2 separate regions of the Homo sapiens genome follow, and region 1 is linked to region 2. The links come from fine-mapping of genetic effects on gene expression. A gene starts in region 2. The other region holds a variant in brackets. All regions are shown on one strand. Distances are from middle to middle. Region 1 overlaps LPAR1 (lysophosphatidic acid receptor 1). Region 2 holds the start of MUSK (muscle associated receptor tyrosine kinase).

The links. PIP is the estimated chance that this variant, and not a neighbour inherited with it, causes the effect.
Region 1: its variant is the best candidate, but not a certain one, in a credible set for the expression of MUSK in tibial artery (GTEx, PIP 0.62).

Annotation. Positions count from the first base shown.
Region 1 is chr9:110,909,642-110,914,044 of GRCh38, forward strand. The region is part of intron 5 of LPAR1 (lysophosphatidic acid receptor 1); the gene reads right to left. Among named protein-coding and RNA genes, the nearest start is that of LPAR1, 130 kb to the right of the region's middle. The variant G/A (reference allele first, on the strand shown) is at 2,484.
Region 2 is chr9:110,666,815-110,671,217 of GRCh38, forward strand. It overlaps MUSK (muscle associated receptor tyrosine kinase), which reads left to right and starts at 1,977. Exons shown (of 15, transcript NM_005592.4): 1 at 1,977-2,169. The coding sequence starts at 2,091.

The DNA.
Region 1 (4,403 bases), 240 kb after region 2:
CACAATATTTCAAACTTTTCATTATTATATCTGTTATGGTGATCTGTGATCAGTGTTCTTTTTGTTTTGCTTCATTTATTAAATAAAGTATTTATTTATTTATTTATTTATTTATTTATTTAGAGAGAGGGTCTGGCTCTGTTGCCCTGACTAGAGTGCAGTGGTGTGATCTCGGCTCACTATGACCTCTGTTTCCTGGGCTCAAAAGTGATCCTCCCACCTCAGCCTCCCGAGTAGCTGGGACTACAGGTGCCTGCCACCATGCTCGGCTAATTTTTTGCATTTTTTGGAGAGACAGGGTTTCATCATATTGCCCAGGCTGGTCTCAAACTCCTAAGCTCAAGCTATCCACCTGCCTCGGCTTCCCAAAGTGCTAGGATTATAGGCATGAGCCACCACATCTGGCCCAAATGTTATTTTTAGAGCAGGTTAGTTTCACAACATAACTGACCAATAAGTGCAGAGAGAAAATTCCACCTAAGACTTTCATAGCTGGAGAGGAAAAGTGAATGCCTGGCTTCTAAGCTTCAAAGGGTAGGCTGACTCTCTTGTTAGGGGATAAAGCGGCTGGTGTGTCTTTAAGCAGAAGCCAGTGCTCATTTACCATTCCAAAAATCCTACAGCCCTTAAGAATTATACTAGATCTACTCTGCCTGTAGTCTATAAATGGAACAACAAAGCTTGGATAACACATCTGTTTATATCATGGCTTACTGAATATTTTAAGCCCATTGTTGAGACCTGCTAAGAAACAAAGATTCCTTTCAAAATATTACTGCTCATTGACAATGTACCTAGTCGCCTAAGAGCTCTGATGGACATGTACAGGGATATTAATGTTGTGTTCATGACTGCTAACCCAATATCCATTCTGCAGCCCATGGATCAAGGAGTAATTTTGACTTTCAAGTCTTATTTAATAAGTATATTTTGTAAAGCTAGAGCTGCCATAGATAGTGATTTCTCTGATGGATCTTGGCAAAGTTAGTTGAAAACTTTCTGGAAAGAATTCACCATTCTAGATGCCATTAAGAACATCCATGATTCATAGTAGGAGGCCAAAATATCAACATTAATAGGAGTTTATAAGAAGTTCATTCCAACCCTCATGGATGACTTTGAAGGGTTCAAGACTTCAGTGGAGGAAGTTGCTGCAGATTTGGGAGAAAGAGCAAGAGAAAGAGTCAGAAGTGGCACCTGAAGATGTAGCTAAATTGCTACAATCTCATGATAAAACTTTAATGGATGAAGAGTTGCTTCTTATGGAGGAGCAAAGAAAGTGGTCTCTGGAGATAGAATATATTCTGGTTGTCAGTGTTGAAATGACAACAAAGGATTGAAAATATTCCATCAACTTAGTTGATAAAGCAGCATTAGGGTTTGAGAGGATTGACTCAGATTTTGAAAGAAGTTTTACTGTAGGTAAAATGCTATCAAACAGTATCACATGCTACTGAAAAATCTTTTGTGAAAGGAAGAATCGATCAACGTGGCAAACTTCATTACTGTCTCATTTTAAGAAATTGCCACAGCCACCCCAATCTTCAGCAACCACCACTGTCATCAGCCAGCAACCATCAACATCAAGGCCAGACCTTCCACCAGCAAAAAGATCATGACCTGTGCAGGGCATGGTGGTGCACGCCTATAATCCCAGCACTTTGAGAGACCAAGGCAGGTGGATTGCTTGAGCCCAGGAGTTTGAGACAAGCCTGGGCAACATAGCGAGATGTCATTTCTACCCAAAATACAAAAGCCAGGCATGGTGGTTCACACCTGTGGCCCAGCTACTTGGGAGGCTGAGGTGGGAGGATTGCTTCAGCCTGGGAAGTAGAGGCTACAATGCACCAAGACTGTGCCACTGCACTCCAGCCTGGGTGACAGAGGAAGATCCTATCTAAAAAAATAGTGGAGGATTTGAAAAAAAAATTAAGAAGCAGACTTAAGATACTTTAATTTTTTTAATTTAAGAAAAAATATTTTCAAAAGATTATGACTTAAGGCTCAGATGACTGTTAGCATTTTTAAAGAAATAAGCTGTTTTTAAATTAAGGTATGCACATACTTTTTTAAGACATACTACTATTGCACATTTAATAGACTATATTACAAACATAACTATCATATGAACCAGGAAACCAAAAAATTTGTGTGACTCACTTTATTGCAATATTTGCTCTATTGCAGTGGTCTGGAACCAAATCTGCAATATCTCCAAGGTATGCCTGTATCTTTCCCATATGCCTATTTCCCAACTGAGATCAGAATTAACACTTATAATACAGAAAAGGGCTGGGTGATTGTTTTAACGGCCAGCCGGAAAGCAGAAAGGCTAGGGAGACAGTATCTCAGTCTAAAGAAAACCTAAAAGGCAGAAACCCTTGGGTGATAGGAAGTGAAGGTAGGTAGATAGAAGAATAAACGTCTGGGTTACTGAGGGCTGTGGGAGGGAGAAAGGAAAGCACAGTATCAATGCAGAAACA[G/A]TGTGACTACATCACAGTTTTTAAATACTTAATAATAGAAAATGGAAAGAAAAACAACTTCTTTCTAAGCACATCCTACTTTTGACCACCCATGTGGCCAGATCTCTTTGCTGTGACCCTCTCCATCATCGAGGTGACTAGAAGTACTTCACATTACAGAATTGTGCAACTTGTGAGCTTGAACATTGCCAGGAATCTCCACCTCTCAAAGACAATTCTGATTTCTTTACAAATGCAAATATTTGATCCCTGACCCAGAGATAGAATACAAAACTTTAAAACTCTTATCTTCTCATGACAGTTTTAAAAAAAGAATTAGTAGGGGGCAAAGACCTTTTGGCTGACTACAGAGTTTTCTCATTTTTTTCTTCTAAAAGCAAAGAGAGAAGAGGAAACACCAAATGAGCTTCTCCTTTCACAATAAAACCCGTTTTCAGACATTCGTCATTCTGGGAACATTGAGATTTTATTAATGGAGATAGTGTTTGGATATTCAGGCTTTCATCAACTATAGAAGCTGGCATGGTCTAAATTTGAACAAACTATTGAAATATAGCCATAAATTTCTTGCTGGAGACAGCGTCTCCATATTACAGTTTTTTTCATGACGCAAACAGTGTCCAAGGAGAAGGGCTAGAGATTCCATTCTAAATGCCACCAGGACATTCTGTTCTTCCTTCTTCACCCTCCAGATGAGAAGGGTTCCTTTCAGTTCAAAGGATGCTAATCTTGCCTCTCTTGGGACTGTCCCAAATAATAAACAGGCTGACCTTAGCTAAACAGAGCAACTGGTCAAACCTGGGAAGATCAGATTTTCAGCCTCAGAAAGCACTGTCATACGAACAAGGTTGGGAGGTTAACAGCATTAAGCCAGTTACTCTTTAGCACATCCTATGAAGTGGTGTCATGTGTGCTATTTGTGCTATTTCCCAGAGGAGGAACTTAAACTTGAAAGTAATTGACTTGTCAAGCTCCATTCAAACTGAAGTCTGTATTCAAATCCAGATCTTCCAGTATATTCCCTGACCTAGAAAACCATCTGGGATATAATAGATACCATCTATCTAGGAATCTAGCTATGTATCTACGTAGATACCTCTTGTTTACATAACTGAGGCGTTGAGCTGTCTGACTCCAAAAGTGTTTTTCTGCCAGACCATGCTGCATAGAAAGTACAGACTTTTAGAGCATCTGTTAGATTAAATACAGGTTTCCAACAGGTAGTATTTACCACTACTACAAGTCAGCCAAATCAGAAAGGTTCATTATCCTAAAAGAAATTAAAATCAGTGCCAACCTGTCATAATATACATACACACAATTTGTTTCTAAAAGTCTCTAAATGAAAGTTTTGCAAAAGTATTGATGAAAGGTATTTATATATATATGTATATGTACACACACATGTGTATCAAGTTCATTTTAATAAGTATATATATATATATCCATTTTTAGCTTTAGATATTACAAAACTATGTAATAATCAGAGTAGACCAGCAGATAAGCCTAATTAAGTATGCCCACAAACAAAAAGCACATTCTGAATGGAACAAACCAAGTGAAGTGGAGTTATGGAAAATAAGACTAAAGGACAGGCTGCAATGTGATTTTGGAAGGACGAGAACATTAGGGTAAGAGATTTCTGCTTTCCTTCTTAGGCAGTGGGGATCCATTTAAATTGTTGAGTAGGAAGATCAAAGTGGCTATTTTGTAGAATGTAGATGAAAGGTTACATGCTCAAAGAGGAGAGAACATCTAAGAAGTTCAATGGGTGCCTGCTATATTTTTCCACAAGAAAGCTGGCTATTACCAGACTGTATGAACAAGACACGTCCAAGCTTGACAAGCATCACTGACTTATTTTTGGCAGGCGATTTGGGACAAAAAGAAGTTCCCTCATTGCTTTTTTCCTTTGGTTCC
Region 2 (4,403 bases):
ACTCTCAATAAACTAGGTATTGATGGAACCCATCGAAAAAAAATGAGCTATTTATGACAAACCCACAGCCAATGTCACACTGAATGAGAAAAAGCTGGAAGTATTCCCTTTGAAAACTGGCACGAGACAAGGATGCCCTCTCTCACCACTCGTATTCAACCTACTATTGGAAGTTCTGGCCAGGGCAATCAGGCAAGAGAAAGAAATAAAGCGTATTCAAATAGGAAGAGAGAAAGTCAAATTGTCTCTGTTTGCAGATGACATGATTGTATATTTAGAAAACCCCATCATCTCAGCCCCAAATCTCCTTAAGCTGATAAGCAACTTCAGCAAAGTCCCAGGATACAAAATCAATGTGCAAAGATCACAAGATTCCTATATACCAATAACAGACAAACAGAGAGCCAAATCATGAGTGAACTCCCATTCACAATTGCTACAAAGAGAATAAAATACCTAGGAATCCAACTTACAAGGGATATGAAGGACCTCTTCAAGGAGAACTACAAACCACTGCTCAAGGGAATAAAAGAGGACACAAATAAATGGAAAAACATTCCATGCTCATGATAGGAAGAATCAATATTGTGAAAATGGCTGTACTGCCCAAGGTAATTTATAGATTCAATGCTATCCCCATCAAGCTACCATTGACTTTCTTCACAGAATTAGAAAAAACTACTTTAAATTTCATATGGAACCAAAAAAGAGCCCATATAGCCAAGGCAATCCTAAGCAAAAAGAACAAAGCTGGCGGCATCACACTACCTGACTCTAAAGTTCTATAAATGAACTCACGAGGCCAAAGAATGAAGAAGACACCAACACAAAGGGGAAAAAATCAAAACAATATGGTCATTGCAATGGTAGAGATATGCACAGTATATTATGGAAACCCAGAGAAGACAAACGTAACACAGCTTTGGGAAGATATGGAATTTTTCTCCCAGGAGGAGAGGATGATCAAGCTGAGAGATGTGTGAACTGAGTGGAAAGGAGGGGAGTAGTATTCCAAGAGAAGCAAACAGTATGAGCAATTCATGGAGGTAGGAAAGCTGTATACAGGGAACCATCAGCAGGTTGTTGAATAAAGGAAGCTGAATGAGGCTGGGCACAGTAGCTCACGCCTGCATTCCCAGCACTTTGAGAGGCCGAGGTGGAATCATCATTTGAGGCCAGCAGTTTGAGACCAGCCTGGGTAACATAGCCTGACCACATCTCTCCAAAAAATAAAAATAAATTAGCCTGCTGTAGTGGCAGTGCCTGTAGTCCTAGCTACTCTGAAAGGATCACTTGAGTCCAGGAGGCTGAGGTTGCAGTGAGCTATGATTACCCCATTGCACTCCAGCCTGGGCAACAGAGCAAGACCCTGACTCTGAAAAAAAAAAAAAACAAAAAACAAAAACAGGATCGTAAAAGACAATACTAACATACAACAAAGCATGCAGATTCCAGTAAAGCCTGTCATATTAGGCAGATTAGGCAGGTTTAAATATATTTTTATGTGATGATGAGCCCCTAAAGGCTTTTGAGCAGGAGGGACTATCTGAAAAAAGATATAGAATGGTTAAGACCCAAGACAGAGAGAAGGTACAAGGACTATTTGGTTGATAAAATCTGTAGGAATTGGAATGGGCTGAATGTGGGAGTGGGGGTGGGGTGAGAGATGGGGAGGACTGAAGACTGAATAGACCCAGATTTCTGGTTTGAGTCCGGGAGAGGTGGGGTGCTGAATTCGAAGGTCAGGACACCTATACCTCTGGGAATACAGCGATGGTTGCAAAAGGCATCTGGTATTGTCCTTCTGCCACTGTCTTAAAAGGGATTCTAAAGGGATTTTCTTGCCCTTGTTCCTCCAGCCCTACACTTGCATTACTGGCCTACGTGGATGCTCACCAGCTGGCTGTGTCCATCATTGCAGCCAAGTCTGAGAATTCCTGATTATACTTAGAGCCTGTGGAGCTGCTGACACAAACAGTCATTAGCAGACAACCCTTTTGCAACAAAGTATGCTTTAAAATGTAAACTGTGGAGCCATTTTCCTTGCGTTGTCCAGAAGGAACTTCGTCCTGCGTGAGCCTGGATTAATCATGAGAGAGCTCGTCAACATTCCACTGGTACATATTCTTACTCTGGTTGCCTTCAGCGGAACTGAGAAACTTCCAAAAGGTTGGTTTGAGCAATCGTGTCTTCTTGTTGTCTTGTCATGGTTGTAAAGTGTGTGTATATGAGATATGACCAAGACTGATTTATAGTATGGTGGGCTTGGGTTTTACTTGAAGAAGTAAGGGTGAAATGTATGATGAGGGAGGAAATTATATACATAAGCAATTGGTTGATGGTCTCTCTACCAATATTTTACTCCGAAGTTCTGCAATAAAAGGCTTAGCCACATAGTGCATGCAGAGCTCTGACTTCTAGGGCAAAACATAAGCATGTACACTGCAAGTTATCAAGGTCTATTTTGTTTATGCGAATGTCAAATTTCAGGGTGGTCTAAGTGGATGATGACAACCTTTTCGCATCAGGTTTGCCAGGAATAGAATCAACCCCATTCTCAGACATCCAGAGCATTTGCTTCTGAATAAAAATCACTTTTATTTTCAGTTTTAGCTTTGCCAAACTCTTAATAAATATTTTAGTTGCTAAAAATTGGAAATACAGAAAGACGTACACAATTTGCCTGTGTAACAAACCCGGAAGACAATGGATTTTAAATAACTTTGAGGCTGGAGTCATGATTTGGCTTGGCAAGAGACTGCAAAAGTTTTTTTCAGAGCCTTTGGAATGTACCGGAAATAACACCACCTCAGGGGAAAGGAAAGCAACTTAAGAAACTGACAAACACCTGTTGCAGTAGCAAGAATGTCCAGTGATATAGTTTCTGGCCAGTGTATTATGAAACTGGGACTAGCGTATTTGAAATCAGAAAGACTGGAAAGTCTGTGATTTGCAAAGTGACTAAGGGTATCACTGAAATCTTTTTTTAAAAAGACATGAGAAAGCAGATCGAGTGGTATCAATACAAGAGTTTTCAAATTTAATGTTATACCATAGAGTAAAAAGAGATTTTTGCTTCAGGACATGTTCAAATTAATCATTTTCCCTTTATATTAATCAAAGCACTGAAACAGTTTGTATTGTGTAGATAAATGAAGGTGGTATCTGTATATAGATGCAAAATGTATCTTTAGATTTTCTGGTTCACTAAAAATTCTGGAGCCATAAGGTCAAAGTTCACATGCAAATAAGATGCGGGTTTCTTCACAAACAATCTGATTTCACAGATTTTTTTGTTTCATTTTGTTGCTTCTCTTTTTCCATTTTACTTGAGTATAATGGTATCTTCAAATGTATTTAAACATTTAATTTCTAATGAATACTTTAAGGCATCTACAGATAAAAGAGACTCTAGATCTTTTCAAACAGCTAATAATAGTCAGAAAGACTTAACATTGGCTTCAGATTATTTTAATACTTCCTGATCAAACAACGGATGTCCGGTAAGGCCCCACCTGGATGTTTGAACGTATGGGTTGTCTTAAGTATTATTTGTATATTTCTAAACCACGCAGTTACATAAAAATGATAGGGTTAAATACTAAAATACAGTCTTATAAAGAGCAGGACAATTGATTTTGATGATTCAAATAAGGATTTGTTGTACACACACACAAAACCCCCAAAATCTCTCTATCTGAATAAGTCTTAATTTATATTCTAGAAAGAATTGATTTTCATTTCCAAACTTTACAAATAAAGCCCTTAATTCAAATGCACACTATCTCTATTTTGAAAATATTGAAATATAGTGGCATAGAGATAACAAAGCCAAACACCCTGACTTTTAAATAAACTAACCAGATCATTCACCCAATTTCATTTCTTATAATTTATTTACTACTAGAATTAGGTTTTAAAATCAAAAAATTTAAGCAATTTTTTCTCAGTCTATTGTACTGTAAAATCTAAATTAGTATGAGTTTAACATCACTCTTAGCCAAAATACCATGTCTAGGAGAACAAACATTTATTTACTACATACAGCAGTTCTGAGAATAACTAATATCATGAAAGCATAATCCTTAAAATTTTAAATGTTGAAGGGTGAGGAATACATTGGTAGAAAAGAACCACAATAAAATTTTATTATTTTCATTATTATTATTATTATTTGAGACAGAGTCTCGTTCTGTTGCCAGGCTGCAGTGCAGTGGTGTGATCTCAGCTCACTGCAACCTCCTCCTCCCAGGTTCAAGCTATACTCCTGCCTCAGACTCGCAAATACCTGGGACTACAGGTGCAAGCCACCACACTCGGCTAATTTTTATATTTTTAGTAGAGACAGGGTTTCACCATGTTGGCCAAGATGGTCTCCATCTCTTGACCTCGTGATCTGCCTG